Linked DNA regions of Homo sapiens. The protein of the gene in region 2 interacts with the protein of the main gene of each other region in a pairwise test. Each region holds a gene or a part of one and is shown on either strand. Other genes may lie near its edges.

Region 1 (7,792 bases), on a different chromosome or scaffold from region 2:
ACTGCAGCTTCAAACTCCTGAGCTCAAGTAATTCCCCCATCTCAACCTCCCGAATAGATAGGACTATAGGCGCACACCACCATGCATGACAGATTGGCTGCTTTAAAAAATGTTTTGTAGAGATGGGGTCTCACTATGTTGCCTAGGCTGGTGTCAAACTCCTAGCCTCAAGAGATCCTCCTGCCTCAGCCTCCCAAAGTGCCGAGATCTGTTTCTTTCTTTAATAATTCTTTCTGCAAACAAATATAAGTGCCACGTCTAAATACGCATCACTAGACCACTAGAAACTCTTGAAATTCCGCATTAGAGATTTAGAATGTGTATCAATACCTTGGTAATATCTGACTTCAAGACTTCCTCTAATTGATCCTTTAACTGAGCTGTCTCAAATTTAGGGACATAATTTTGCTCTTCACTCCTTGCAACCTGCTGTTTAAGTTTTGCATTCTCATTTTTTACTTCGTTGATTTGCTGCTGAAGTTTTATATTCTTCGTTCTTTCATTTTCAGACATAAATTGCAAATTTCTAACTTGAGTGAGCAATTTCTCAAGTCTAGATTTCAGTTTCTGTCTTTCTTCCAGGTTTTCCTTTTCAAGTTTCTGGAATTCCTCCTGTAAAGACAAGAACTCTTGTTCTTGGGCCTCTTTTTCCCGTTTCAACAAGTCCAAAGCAGAAGCTGTGGCCTTTTCCAGTTCTTTTTTGAGTTGTTGTAGTCTCTCTACCTCTTCTTCTTTCTTGCTTAAGGTTTTGTCCATCTCTAAATACTGACTTACAGATTTATTTTTTTGTTGCATTTCAGTCATGTACCTTTCCTGTAAACACACATAATTAGCCTTGATCTTCTTAAATTGAAGCTGTAACATTTCCTTGTCATTCCTGGATTCCTGAAGATGTTTTTGCGTGTTAGCTAAAACCTCTTCCAAATTCTGCAATGTCTTTTTAGTATCATTCTTCTCTAGGATTATTTTGTATTTGTCTTCAATTAATTCTTCAACATTCTCCTTTAGCTTATTGATGACATCAATGAACACTTGCTGTTTGGTAATCTTCATCTGTAGTTCTTTAACCCTCTTCTCTAAATACAGGTTACTACACTGGAGTTCTTGGATTCGCACTTCCTGCTTTCTGTTAGTATGTTTTAATTTCTGCAAGACTTCATTTAAAGCCATGTCCTCTTGAACAGGTTGTAAGCTTTCAGCACTTTGCTCCCAGTCAGGCATCTCACAGTTCTCCCGACATGCTTCACTCCTCCAGGAAATGCCTGCCGAAGACCAAGTTGAGACAATTTCTGGCCTCTCCACACCCTCTGCTGTGACTTCCTTTTCATAACTGACTGACATCTCAGGAATCTCCCCATAATTCTGTATTTCTTTTGAAGGAACTGCAGTCTGTAAATTATAGTAAACAAAGTAAGTGTGAACGAGTAGAAAGATAATGAGCTTTCAAGTCAAATAGGGCTGGCCTTGAATTCTATTAGTAGATCCCCTGTTTGGCTTTCTCCGCTATAAAGTAACAATAGTATCTACTTCCAATAATAATGCCTATTAACAAAAGTTAATACCTATGTATTAATTGCTAAATGTTTGTACAGCACCTAACAGCACAGCAGGGCACAGGCAGTAGGTATATGACAGATATACATCCCATTTACTTTGACAAAAGGAAAATTAAACTTTCATCCTCTTACCATTTTCTATTATGCAAACTTCTCTGAACACATATAAGATGCTTTGACTTCAAATAAATTCAGACAAATAAATGTATCAATTACCTTACAGACTGCAAGTTCTCTCTCTTTTTTTTTTTACATGTTATTACTGGGCCAAAAGTTTGGATTTTTAGGGGGGAAAGTTCTCTTCTCTTTTGAATATTTTTTATTCCACATTTAGACCATTATCTCATTATTCTGTGACTCTCAGGAACATTAGAATGGCAGAAGAACATGCCTCATGATTGACTTTATGCTGCCGATAGAGGTCTCGAGGAGGTTATAAAAAGACAGTAGGCCGGGCGAGGTAGCTCACGCCTGTAATCCCAGCACTTTGGGAGACTGAGGTGGGTGGATCACCTGAGGTCAGGAGTTTGAGACCGGCCTGGCCAACATGATAAAACCCCATCTCTGCCCAAAATACAAAAATTAGCCAGGCATGGTAGCACATGCTTATAATCCCAGCTACTTGGGAAGCTGAGTGAGGCAGCAGAATCACTTGAACGCAGGAGGTGGAAGTTGCAGTGAGCTGAGATCACACTACTGCACTCCAGCCTGGGCGATAGAGCGAGACTCTGTCTCAAAAAATAATAATAATAAAATAAACAAATAAAAATAAAAAAAGACAGTAATTTGTGGTAAGAAATGGTGAAATGAATATGACATTAAAAACCCAGGGCCGGGTGCAGTGGCTCATGCTTGTAATCCCAGTACTTCAGGAGGCTGAGGCGGGTGGATCATGAGGTCAGGAGATCAAGACCATCCTGGCCAACATGGTGAAACCCCATCTCTACTAAAAATACAAAAATTAGCTGCGCGTGGCGGTGTGCACCTGTAGTCCCAGCTACTCGGGAGGCTGAGGTAGGAGAATTGCTTGAACCCTGGAGGTGGAGGCTACAGTGAGCCGAGATCACGCCACTGCACTCCAGCCTGGGCGACAGAGCGAGACTCTGTCTCAAAAAAACAAAAAACAAACAAACAAAAAAAACAAAAACAAAACCCAGGCCAGGCACAGTGGCTCATACCTGTAATCCCAACACTTTGGGAGCCCAAGGTGAGAGGATTCCTTGAGACCAGGAGTTGGAGACCAGTTTGGGTAACACAGTGATACCCTATCTCTTCAAAAAAAATATTTTAAAAATCAGTCAGGTGTGGTGGCATGTGCCTGTAGTCCTAGCTCCTTGGGAAGCTGAGGCAGGAGGATTTCTTGTGGGCCATGATCACACTGCTCTCCAATCTGAGTAACAGAGCAAGACACCTTGTATCTAAAATAAATAAATAAGTAAAAACCCAGTAAAAGGTATCTGTAGTGGTGTGCTGTATAATTCTCTGGAATTTAGAGACAAGGACTTCTGTATTTTGTTTTTTGAGCTCATCCTTCTGCAGAACCTTGTATCTTAATGGTTTTTCATTGTTCTGGGATAAAGATAACTATCATTACTGAGACCTACAAGGCCCTAATATCTTGCTCTTGATATCTGCTGTGCTTTAAATGCATCCCCTAAAGTTAACGTGCCGGAAGCTTGATCCCCAATCCCCAGTGCAACAGTGTTGGAAGACGGGGCCTAGTAAGAGGTGAATAAAAATGACTAAATGTTGTTATCACAGGAGTGTGTTAGTTATCACAAGTGGATTTGTTACAAAAGTGAGTTTGGGGGCTGGGAGTGGTGGCTCACACCTGTAATCCCAGCACTTTGGGAAGCCGAGGCAGGTGGATCGCAACGTCAGGAGATTGAGACCATCCTGGCTAACACTGTGAAACCCTGTCTCTACTAAAAATACAAAAAATTAGCTGGGCGTGGTGGCACACACCTGTAATCCCAGCTACTGGGAAGGGTGAAGCAGGAGAATTGCTTGAACCCGGGAGGCGGAGGTTGCAGTGAGCCAAGATGGTGCCACTGCACTGCAGCCTGGGCGACAGAGCGAGACTCCATCTCAAAATAAATAAATAAATAAATAAATAAATAAATAAATAAATAAATAAAATAAAAGTTAGTTTGGCCTCCACTTGCTCCCTCGATCTCACCTTCTTTTGCCCCTCCACCTCCCACCATGAAATGACAGCACAGAGACCCTCGAGTGATGCTGGCACCATGGACCTAGCCTCCAGAACCGTGAGCCAGATAAATTGTTATTCATTATAAATTGCCCAGTCTGTGATATAGTTGCAGCAAGATGAAATGAACTAAAGCAGTATCTGACCCACACCACCTCTCTGTCTTCATCTGCTGTACCCCTCCTCCTTCCTCCAACTCTGATCTTCCTGGACTCAGGGCTTCCTTCAGGTCCTAGTAGGTACCATGCTTCCTGTGGCCACAGGGTTTGCAGACGTTCTTCCTTCTGTATGGAAGGCTCTCCTACCCATGGCTGCCTAATTAACTTCTACCCATCCTTTAGAGCTCAGCTCAATGATCATTTCTTCAGGGATGCCTTCCCCAGACTCCCTGATCAGGGTAGTGTCCTTATCATAGATGCCCAACCTACTTACATATGCAGCACTTATCATAGTTGCAAGTTTATCTGTAACTTGATATAGCATCATAGCATAAATAGTAACTTTATATAACATGCTCTACATATACTTTATATGTAACTTTATTCACCTTATTGATCTTATTATAGTTGCAAGTTCACATTTATTTGTGTGATTGATTAATGACTACCTCCTCTAGTAGGATGCTGTCTTCATGAGGACAAGAACTACATCTTTTTGTCTATTTTCTAACCATCACCTAATGTGTAGTACAGACCTGCCATGTAATAGATGCCTAAAAGTATCTATTGACTGAATGAAAAATGGCTAAATGCAATGAAAAGAGGAAAGAACAATCTTGCGAAACCCTATTTAAGCTGATTTTTAAAAGGTTGTTTTCCAGAAATCAACTTGGACAAATAAAGTCCTTTTAAATGCTGTCATCTACTTTCAAAAAAATGAAAATGCTCATACTTGTAAATAAGACATTATAGTCATAGTGTTTCCCATCAAACTCACATTGGAAAGGTATTATTGGCCAGGTGTGGTAGCTCACACCTGTAATCCCAGCACTTTGGGAGGCCAAGGCGGGTGGATCGGCAGTTCAAGACCAGCCTGGCCAACATGGTGAAAACCCGTCTCTACTAAAAATACAAAAAAAAATTAGCCAGGTGTGGTGGCACACGCTTATAATCCTAGCTACTCAGAAGGCTGCAGCAGGACAATCGCTTGAATCCAGGAAGCAGGGGTTGCGGTGAGCCAAGATCATGCCACTGCACTCCAGCCTGGGCAACAGAGTGAGACTCCGTATCAAAAACAAAACAAAACAACAAAAAAAGAGAAAAGGTATTACTTATACTATTCTTGAATTTTATCTATTTTCCCATACCAATTCCTAGTATTTTTAATTTTTTTGTTCAGAAAGTACACAGAATATATACTGTCGGTATCTTCAGTGCTCTTAGGATACTACATGTGTGCTCGGAATCAATAAACCAAATGATAAACTAATATTTTCACTTTAGTAGAAAAAGTAGTATTTTTTGCTTGTCAGTAGAATTCCAATATGACAGAGAAATCTTGTTTTTCTTGAAAAATGAATTAGTGCCTCTGCACTCCTTCCTCTTCTTGACCTTTCCATCAGTGTAAACTCTGCTACTTCCAGCCATTTTGATTCAACAAATATAAAAGCTTATTATATTCAGACTGCTCTGTCTACACAGTAGCCATTCTTTTGTTTCTTTACTTCTCTAATAAACTTGTTTGTGGTGAAAAAAAATTATGGTAAAAAAAGCTTATTATATTCAAGGAAACATATAGACGCTGTGGTGCATAAGAGGGTGAGTAAGACAGTCCTGATCCTTAGAGAAATTACCATTTGGTAGAGCTAATCCTCAAGTATGGACTTGATTTTACTAGAAAAATTTATTTCTGAATTGGCTAAGATCTCAGAATGCATTTTCCCCAGAGAAGCAAAGTCCCTCATGCTAACTAGGTGATTTAACACTACTTGGAAAAGTCTCAGATTATATATATATATATACAATTTTTAAAATGCATCCTTTAATACTCCACAGGCTTTACTGACCATCACAATCGTACCTCCTCTGCTTTATAATTAACTCTCAGATGAACTAGGTTAGAACTATTCTCTTTATCAAATGGTTTTACAATATTATTGTGTACACTTTCCTTACATAAGAAGCTTGGAGGTTGGCTAGGGTTGAGGGCAGATTCCTTGGCAATACTTTTAGCCAGTGACTTTTCTGTAAATTTCAGCATCTCTCCACTGCAGTGGATTAGAGGCGGGCTTCTAGGAGGAGGCTGTCTAAAATACTCGTTACCAAGTTGGTCTGTATTTGCAGAAACACTAGTTTCCATTGGATTTTCTTCCTTAAATGAGTCTTGCTTTATATTGTTGTCTTTTGCATAATTATACACTTGACTTTGAAATTCTGGCTTCTCTGTCATTTCATCATCAAATGCTTCTACCCAGTGAAATTTGCAAACGGTTTCAAATTGTCTCAAGGAAGATATGCTGATGGTGTCAACTGGCTGAATTAGTGCATTCGTTGAGTAATTTTCAATGTTGTTATCTCATAAGAAAGAGAAAGAAGGAAATAAAAACGAGTAGACCATGAACTTGGATGGTAACAGTTATATTTATATTTATCAAATAAACTGCTGTAGCCACTTAAAAATTATATATTATTTCAACCTTATTTACTGTGTGAATTTTAGCATGGTTTTGTGCTAGCAAACAAAACAAAACTTTTTACATGGGGGAAAGAAGTCCCCAAATGACTGCTAGGAAAAAGTGTGTTATATGTAATTCTGGTCAAATAAAATTACAATAAATTTCAAGAGATCTTCAAAATTCTTTTGTTGTACTGTAATTTTAAGATGTTTTAAATTATACAATGTTTCAAAAGGACAAGGATAGTATAATAGAAAACACATATAAACTTGCTTAATCTCACAAAAATCCCATGATGTCAGTACTGTTATTATCCCTATTTTACAGATAAGGAAACTGAAGTGTAAGAGATGTTAAAGTCACTTGTCCAAAGTCACAGAGCTGCTAAGCAGTGCTGCTGAGATTCTAGACTACTACTTCTAAATGCTATGCTATACTATTTTTCAATATGACAAATTATGCAGATGTAATGTTTTTTAAAATCAGGAGCAAATAAGAAAACAGAATGTTACAAATTATTGATCCCTTTTATCTAACTTTCCTCCTCCCCAGAGATAACCAGTGTACTGAAGCCCATATGTATTCATTCTTCCCATTCCCATTTTACTTTTACTACTGATTTATGTATCCTAAATAATAAAATCAACATAATCTTGCCAAAGAATAAAGTTCCCAGATTTCCTCATTTTGTGACACCCTTAATGTCTCAGTACTTTTTTTCACAGTACCTCTGGACCAAAAGGAATACTTAAGTTCCATTTAGTAAATAATTAAGTTCAAACTAGTATTTGTCCTAAGTTATTAGCTGTTTGAAAATACACATAAACTAAAAGAAAAATATAATATTTTATTCTTAAACAACCACACTTTACTACTTGGATGTACACTGTTAGGCACCGTACAGCACCTCAAATCGTGGAATCAGATTGGAGACCACCACTCTCACTTCCTATTCCACAATGATTTTCATACGGGACTTGCTTTTTATTATAGCAACCTCCAAAAACCTACCTTTACAAATAAGACATCATAGGAAGGACTATAGTATGGGTTTATAGTGAAAACTACAGCTAACAGATTGTGGGGGTCTGATAGATGTCCAGTGTCACTGTTTCCCTCAAACTCCAAAATACCCTGCAACACTTTAGGTGAGTGATTAATATATAGTATTGTTTTATGTGCTTTTATATTTTACATAAATAGCATCTCACTCTATCTATAGCCATATAAAAGTCTTGGACGCAGTGGTTTACGCCTGTAATCCTAGCACTTTGGGAGGCTGAGGTGGGTGGATCACCTGAGGTCAGGAATTCGAGACCAGCCTGGTCAACATGGTGAAACCCCGTATCTACTAAAAATACAAAACTTAGTGGGGCGTGGTGGTGCACATCTGTAATCCCAGCTACTCAGGAG
Region 2 (8,583 bases):
TTCTGGCTGGCCATGGTGGCTTATGCCTGTAATCCCAGCACTTGGACAAGCCAAGGTGGGGAGATGATTGCTTCAGCCCAGGAGTTTGAGACTAGTCTAAGCAAAATAGGGAAACCCTGTCTCTACCAAAAAAAAAAAAAAAAAAAATTTGCCGTGAGTGGTGGCACCCACCTGTGTTCCCAGCTACTTGGAAGGCTAAAGTGGGAAGATCACTTGGGTCTGGGAGGTTGAGGCTGCAATGAGTAATGACTGTGCCACTGTACTCCAGCCTGGGCAACACAACAAGACCCCGTCTTTATCTCTTATACAGAAATGCACAGGAAGTTTGTCTGGCACTCTCCACAGGGCAATTGGTTGTTGCCCTGGGATAGTGACCATTCATGCATTTATTCACCAACTGATTTCGGAATTGCTATTTACCTATGTATTAGTGCACAAGTTCTTTCAATTCTCCTTTGAGCCAGTTCCAGTATCTTACTGATTCTCATATTGAGTTAGAGAAAATCTTTGGGCTGGGCGCAGTGGCTCATGCCTGTACTCCCAGCACTTTGGGAGACTGAGGCGGGTGGAACACCTGACGTCAGGAGTTCAAGACCAGCCTGGCCAACAGGGTGAAAACCCGTCTCTACTAGAAACACAAAAATTAGCCGGGCGTGGTGGTGCACGCCTGTAATCCCAGCTACTCGGGAGGCTGAGGTGGAAGAATCGCTTTAACCCAGGAAGCAGAGGTTGCACTGAGCTGAGATCACTCCATTGTACTCTGGCCTGGGCAACGAAAGAGAAACTCCGTATCAAAAAAGAAAAAAAGAAACAAGAAAAAATATTTGATGTGTATTTTAATACCTGCAGAAGAGACATAATTTTACCTTTAAAAAAGTACCTCTTAGCAGCACGTATTTCATAACGAAGAAAGGATAGCTGTTTTCAGATCTGCTAATTCTGCAAGCACAATCCACATCGTCTTAAGCATTCATGAGGTAGTTACAAAAACAAACACAAATGTAATGGAAAAATCTCAGTACATTAAAAAAATAGAGTAGAAACCTTTCTGGTCATTCAATTTTATCTTAATACAATGAACTGAAAAATAAATGAGAACATAACAGGCTGCTCAAATAATAGGTTGAAAATACTACACATTAACATCTGTGATTGCTATGGGAACGCCAACAGTAATTTTTTTTTTTTTTTCTGAGATGGAGACTCACTCTTGTTGCCCAGGCTGGAGTGCAGTGGGGCAGTCTCGGCTCACTGCAACCTCCACCTCCCGGGTTCAAGTCATTCTCCTGCCTCACTCTCCCAAGTAGCTGGGATTACACACAACTGCCACCACGCCCAGCTAATTTTTGTATTTTTAGTAGAGACGGGGTTTCACCATGTTGGCCAGGCTTGTCTTGAATTCCTGACCTTGTGATCTATCTGCCTCGGCCTCCCAAAGTGCTGGGATTACAGGTGTGAGCCACCGCACCCAGCAGTAACCTTTTTTTTTTTTTTTTTTTTTTTTTTTTTTTTTGAGACAGAGATTTGCTCTTGTTGTCCAGGCTGGAGTGCAATGGCGCAGTCTCTACTCACTGCAACCTCCACCTCCCGGGTTCAAGTGATTCTCCTGCCTCAGCCTCCCAAGTAGCTGGGATTACAGGCGCCTGCCACCACGCTCGGCTAATTTTTGTATTTTTAGTACAGACAGGGTTTCACCATGTTGGCCACGCTGGTCTCAAACTCCTGACCTCAGGTGATCTGCCCGCCCCGGCCTCCCAAAGTACTGGGATAACAGGCGTGAGCCACTGCACCCAGCCCCCATCAAAAGTAAATTTTAAAAATGTCAACATTATCAAAAAAACCATTCCATTTCACATATGAAAAAGAACAGCAAAAACAACAAACCTAAAGTTATAAGAGGGAGGAAATAATAATGATAGGAGCTATAAATAAATAAGAAAACATGTCATGAAATTTAAATAAATGTGCCAGGAGCTTGTTATTTGAAACAGCTAATTAAAACAGGCAAAACTGTCAAATACAAGGTTTTAAAATGTAGAAAAATGGGAGAAACTTAAGATGTGAGCTACAGCAGCACATTTTATTTTTTTATTTTTGAGAGACAGGGTTTCTCTTGTCACCCAGGTTGGGTTGCAGCGGCATGCTGTGCCTCACTGCAGCCTCGACTTCCCAGGCTCCAGAGATCCTCTCACCTCAGCCTCCCAAGAAGGTGGGAACTACAGACACATCCCACCATGCTCGGCTAATTTTGTTTTGTTTTGTTTTTGGTAGAAACGGGGTCCCACTATGTTGCCCAGGGTGGTCTTGAACTTCTGGGCTCAAGCGATCCTCCCGCCTCGGCCTCCCAAAGTGCTGGAATTACAGGCGTGAGCCACCGTGAGCGGCAGCAGATCTTTTATTGAACTTAATGTGCATTAAGTGCCTGCGTGTGTCAAACAATGTTTTAGATTTTTAAAAATAATCATAAAACATTCCATGCATGACTGATTGTAAAAACGACTATGCCCAGGGCAGTTTTGTTTAAAAATATTCCGCCGGGCGCGGTGGCTCACGCCTGTAATCCCAGCACTTTGGGAGGCCGAGGAGGACAGATCACGAGGTCAGGAGATGGAGACCATCCTGGCTAACACGATGAAACCCCGTCTCTACTAAAAATACAAAAAATTAGCCAGGCGTAGTAGCGGGCGCCTGTAGTCCCAGCTACTCGGGAGGCTGAAGCAGGAGAATGGCGTGAACCCGGGAGGCGGAGCTGGCAGTGAGCTGGGACTGTGCCACTGCACTCCAGCCTGGATGACAGAGCGAGACTCCGTCAAAAAAAAAAAAAAAAAAACCACCATATATATATATGTATTTTACAATGGACAAGTGAAAAAGTTGACTAAAAGTAGAGATGACCTTAAAATAACTATGAAAATCATCCCCTCCCCTGTTTAACACTGAGACCCAAGCGTTATGGATAAATTCTATTTTTACGTAGAAAAATGATGCTATGTTAGAGAAGCTGATTCATACACAGAACACATTCAAAACCACTTCACAAAATCATTCCCAAGCTATCATCCGATCTCCACTCCCAATGGAGACAGAGATAAAATTCTTGGCTCATGACAAGGACTCAGTAATGTGATAAAAGAATAATATACCAATTAGGGTTTATCACAGGGAGCGAAGGATTGTTCAATTTGAGACAATCTAAAAATAGCATCCACCCCATCAATAGCTTAGGGGAAAAAAATCATATGATCATTTAAAAATACCAAAAGGCATTTGAAAAAATTCACCACCACCCTCCTAAGACAAAATGGAAAAAAGGGAATGCAAAAATATTTCTCCAACATGCTGACAAGGATTCTAAAATAAGAGCTGGTATTAATATGATAATCAGCAGAGAAGTACTAGAGATGCACTCGAAAATCAGGAGCCAAACAAGCATGCCTGGCCGTGCCCCACCACGACGTTTTAGAACATGAGAGAAATGCCACAGGATAGACAGGGAAGCAAGAGGGGCACGTGTTAGAATGCAGAGACAACGGCACTCTTAATAACTGATGCTGCGGCTTGACGAAAGCAAACAGCACATACAAGAAAAGCATTCAAAACAACAACCGACAAGCTGCATTTCTACAAACAAAAACCACTTAGGAAATACGCAAGCAAAAGAAATGCCAATCACATCACACCTGTAATCCCAGCACTTTGGGAGGCCGAGGTGGGCGGATCACCTCAAGTCAGGACTTTGAGACCAGCCTGGCCAACATGGTGAAACCCCGTCTCTACTAAAACTACAAAAATTACCCAGGAGTGGTGGTGGGCGCCTGTAGTCCCAGCTACTCGGGAGGCTGAGGCAGGAGAATCACTCAAACCCAGGAGGCAGAGGTTGCAGTGAGGCGACATTGTATCACTGCACTCCAGCCTGGACAAGAGTGAGACTCTGTCTCAAAAAAAAAGAAAAAGAAAAAGAAAAAGAAAACAAAAAAAAAGGAAATGCCAATCACGGATGCAACAACCTATCATCACCACGACTGCCACAAAAAAACCACCAAAGACCACCCCTGACATCATACGCACATGACTTCCAAGAGCAAGATCTCTAAAACCGGTCTAACTTGTATCAGTAGACACTGATGGAGAACTCTCTTATGTTCCTGAAAAGTCTGACTGAAGACCAAGACGCAACCATGGATGTTACGAATGCCTCACAGCATGGCTAGGACGTGGGCCCCTTCTAAGGTGAGAAAACCGAGGCTCAAGGAGGTGGTTTCCATTTCCCAGGGTCATCTGTGAGCACATGGTGACCTCACACAGCCTGTTTGGAGCAGAGCTGGCATTGCCACCCTTGTCTGGGTGACTCGGAAGCCTGGGATCTTCCCATGCTACCTTCTAATCCACCGCCTATACCTTGATACTTGGGGATATCAAACGATATTCTACAAAGATTAATACTTGAAGGGAGCAGGTCTTACATGGTATTAAAATATACTCTAAAACAGCAAGACTCAAAACAGCATGATACTGGGACAGAAATGGAAATGTGGAATCGTGGAGGCCCAGAATGAGGCCCAACTATTGTTAGATATATGGCAAAACAGAGACTGTCTAATACATGGCGGTCACTAACTGAGAAGCATGGGAAAATTGCACAGAATGGGTTTTAATATCTGGCTGAGCGTACAGTAGGAGCGTATTGATACAAACCAGCAGGTGCCTTTGCTCCGAGCTTGGTCCTGCATGCTCAATAGCTCAGAGGCCTTACTTGGCTCAATCTCTGAAGGACTTCGTAATTCATAAGGTGGATGTCTCCATTTCACAGATGGAAAAACTGAGGCTCAGAAAGGGAAATAACCAGCTCAGATCCCTCAGCCAGGTCTGGCTGGCTTTATCAGCTAAGTTCCCCGGCCTCAACCGGCAGACAAGGCTGGGCTTTTCTGGACTCCCAAAGCTCAGGGTGCTGGTGGCTGCTGCCTCGAGCACCTGTGGGTCCCTCACCCTTGCATGCTCCCAGTTCCCTCACCGTGGGCCTGGACCAGTGTGCCCTATGGCTGCTCTCTGCTCCTGGATGACTGACTCTCCAGTTGCCTCCTGGGTGTGCCTGGAGTCTCATGCTACACTCCCATGCCTATTGCCAGGTCCCTGACTCAGTTTCCCCACTCATCCCAGCCAGCAGCTATGGCTGTCTGGCTGTGACTCTGTTGAGTTCACCTTTGTGAGCCTCTGTTTCCATAGCTGTGAGATAGTGGAGGTGACAGCAACCACCCATAGGGTTGCTGTGAGGATTAAACCAGGTGCTGAGCATCGAGAACCTGATATGGGACAGGGTTCAGATGCATGAACCACCACCCCCCACCACGCCCCACCCCGCCCCCTCTTCCAGTCTTGTAAGCCCACCCTGAAGGGTACGACACCTGTCTGGGGACCCCTTAAGGGCACAGGGTGATTGCGGCCACCCTTTCTAAGGCCCCAGCCCAGGATCAGGCCTGATTCCGGGAAAATGCCTCCTGCTCCCAACCAGAGCCATTCACCAAACCATTCTATTCCCTTCCCAGTTCATCTCAGCTGCTTCAAAGAGGCCCAGGCAAAGCCCACCCCTGAGATAGGCCTCCCTGGCGGCCTGTCTTCAAAAATCCAGGCATCCTTAGGCAAGGGTGGAACTGAAGCAGCACTGGAGCCCTGGACCCCGGGGGCCACCTACACCCACTGACCTTCTTGGTATAACCCATGGCCTTCAGGACAGAGTGATTCAAGGTCTCCAGGGAGGCCAGGACATCCTCATAGTCACCCATGTGGTCCACAAAGTAATCTGGGGAAGGAAAGGCAAAGGTCAGGGGTCACAGGTCCTGCCCCTCCCACTCAGCACTCCTGCACCTCCCACCTGCGCTACCTCCAGCCTCCCCTGCCTCAGGCCCTTCTCATCCAGCCCCATCCCAGCATCCCCATCTTGGTCCCAGCATAGCCAGGCACCTACCACACAGCTCCTTGGTGTCCACATGGCTGCAGAGACAGACAGAGGCAGAGACAGACAGAGACAGAGAGGGGGTTAGCAGGCCTGACCCTGCACAGCCTGCGAAACACACATCCTGCCTGCTCTTTGCAGCCTGTGTGCTGGCCCCACAAGCTCCGCCTTACAGAAGAGGGTGCAGCAGGTAGGTGACACCCCCGCCCCTGAAGGCCCACGTCTGTCTGATCCCCCACACCACCCACCCTTGTTCTGTTTTCTCGGAGTCTGCTGACCCCATCATGAATAAATGACACCAAGGGGAGGGCCAAGCTGGGGGCCAGGAAAGGGGTAAAGGGACAGAGAGTGGGGACCCATTACTGTGACGGGCTGTCAGCAAAGCTCTCATCTGACCCACTGACCCACCCCCAGTCGACCCTGCCTGCTGGGTCCTGGAGTTCCTGGGGTTGTGGCAGAGCCCTTCCTGTTCTGGTCGCAGCCCCTGGGTCCCATATCCCCATTCCTACAGCCTGGAGAAGGGTCCTGTCCTTTCTTGGGGGAGCAGGCTGAGCATGAGCCTATCCCCCATGGCAGTGAAGGAGCACAGACCGGCCCCAAGATAAGGGGTGCAGTGCTGGGAACTATGGTGGTTCTGCAGCTTAGGAGCAGATTTGATAAGCTGAGGCCCTCTGGGACTGGCTAGAGATGGTCTGGATAAGGAGCTACTGCCAAGTCAATGTGCAAGGGACCCAATACGGTGGTGGCCCTTTCTGGGCCTAGGTCCCTCATCGTGCTCAGTGGAGCCCAGGCTCAGCAAAGCACATCTGGACAGAAGGCTTCTGTGGCCCAGTGAATCTGCACTCGGGGGCTCTGCATGCTCTGTCAGGAGGTGCCTCCAACCTCCATCTCATATTCAGAGTTCTGGCAAGTCCTGCAGAAAGCGACCCTGTCATTCTGCTTTAATTCATGTTTCACAAAACTTTTTGATGGTTTGTACACTGTTTTGGGCACAAAGTCTATTTAGCATCCCAAGGGGCTAATGTTCGTGGCTCACACCTTAGGTAATGTTGGGGAGATTAATCCTAAAAGTCTTTATAGAGCTTTGACCTTCCATAACCGCGAGTCCTCCCTGCACCCCCACCCACCCACACGTACTCTCACAGTTCGACTCTCAAACCAGTGCCTCCTCCTCCCTCCGCCTCCACCCCCTCCTCTACCCCGCTGGTCCTAACACAAAAGGCCCTGAAAGAGAAGGTCTAAATCAATGGGCACCTGCCTGGCCCCTTCAAAGCACCCCAGGAAGCTGCAGTAACAGCTCAGAAATCTCCATCTGGCCCCAGACAGTTCTCCATTCTGCAGTCTGGAGCCTGAAGCCATTTCTTTAAAGTGGCCTTTCCCAGAGGATGGTATCTGCTCCACTTACCATATCCCGGTCCCCAGCCAGTGCCCCCCAGGACTCTCTCAGCCGCAGCCTCTGGTCCAAACCACCACTGTACTCTACCCCTTGCACACTGGTTTGGTGGTAGCTCCTTGTCCAGACCATCTCTAGTCAGTCTCAGAGAACCTCCGCTTACCAAATGTGCCCTAAGCAGCCCTCCAGAAGCTTGGGTCCTCATCACGCGAGTAGGCCTGAGAAAGGAGACCAGGTGGGGCTCTGATCCCTCCTGAAGGTGGGGTTGAGGAGAGGGCTCAGACCTCATCCTGTCTGGGGAATCCCAAGAAAAGGGCAAGATTGGAGGTGAGGCTGGGAAGGGTCAAGGGTAAGTCTGAGTAGAATCTGCATTTTCCACTTGATTTAGAGATGGGTGGAGACAGAGTTTTTGGCTGATTCTGAGATGCAGGTCAGGGTTATGACTGGGTTGGAGAAAAGGTTTAATAAGCTATAATGATAGACGTAGTGTTGAGTTAGGATTCGTGTTTGGTTTAACACAGGAGTCAGTGTTAGGATGACGTTCAACCTCACAGTTAATGTTGGGACTGGGAGGACACACAGGCATTGGGGTTGGGGTGAGAACTGGCTGCTGGCTGAAGATGGCAGAAGGATGAAGTCATTGCCACCTTCCCATTTTCATAATCCCATGTCCACTGTGCAAAACCAGGAGTCTCTCCTTAGTTGGCCATGTGCACTCAGAAGACACACTTGCGATAGTAGCCAATGCAATATGAATCTGCACACGCCCCATTCACCCCAGGCAGTGAAGAGCTGACTTCTGGATTAGCAAATTTGGGGATTTTCAGTTCTCCTGCCCCTTACAGGGGACTAGGAACGGACACTAGATGAAAAGATGCCTCCACCACAGCCCACACACACCCCCACTCTGCCAGCCAGGACTGAAGCTCACTTGGTGTTGTCAGAGTCAATCGTGTGAAAGAGATCCTCCAGTTCTTTCTCATTAAGGACGCCATCTGCAAAGAAGAGCTGGAATTCCTCCAAGGACAGCTTCCCATCATCTGCAAGGAAGGAAGCAGAGAAAGGAGCTGGTGTCTGCAGAGATAAGGCTGGTGGGGCTAGTGCATGCACGGCCCCCAAATCCAGTCAATGGCCTGACTGACAGAACAACTGCAGCTCAGATAATCCCTACCCTCCCAGCTAATCCCCAAACTAAAAGACAAATTCCATTTTAGATAATCCCTACCCACCCAGCTAATTC

The links. Proteins that work in one complex are often made in the same cells at the same time.
Region 1: the proteins of NECAB2 (region 2) and CAGE1 interact in binary tests that used the Homo sapiens proteins (3 or more experiments, as listed by UniProt).

What each region holds. Positions count from the first base shown.
Region 1 is NC_000006.12:7,372,743-7,380,534, forward strand, and holds part of CAGE1 (cancer-associated gene 1 protein), read right to left. Parts: intron 6,279-7,792; coding exon 5,875-6,278; intron 1,390-5,874; coding exon 331-1,389; intron 1-330.
Region 2 is NC_000016.10:83,978,244-83,986,826, reverse strand, and holds part of NECAB2 (N-terminal EF-hand calcium-binding protein 2), read right to left. Parts: intron 8,384-8,583; coding exon 8,275-8,383; intron 5,989-8,274; coding exon 5,963-5,988; intron 5,798-5,962; coding exon 5,700-5,797; intron 1-5,699. UniProt on the Homo sapiens protein: May act as a signaling scaffold protein that senses intracellular calcium.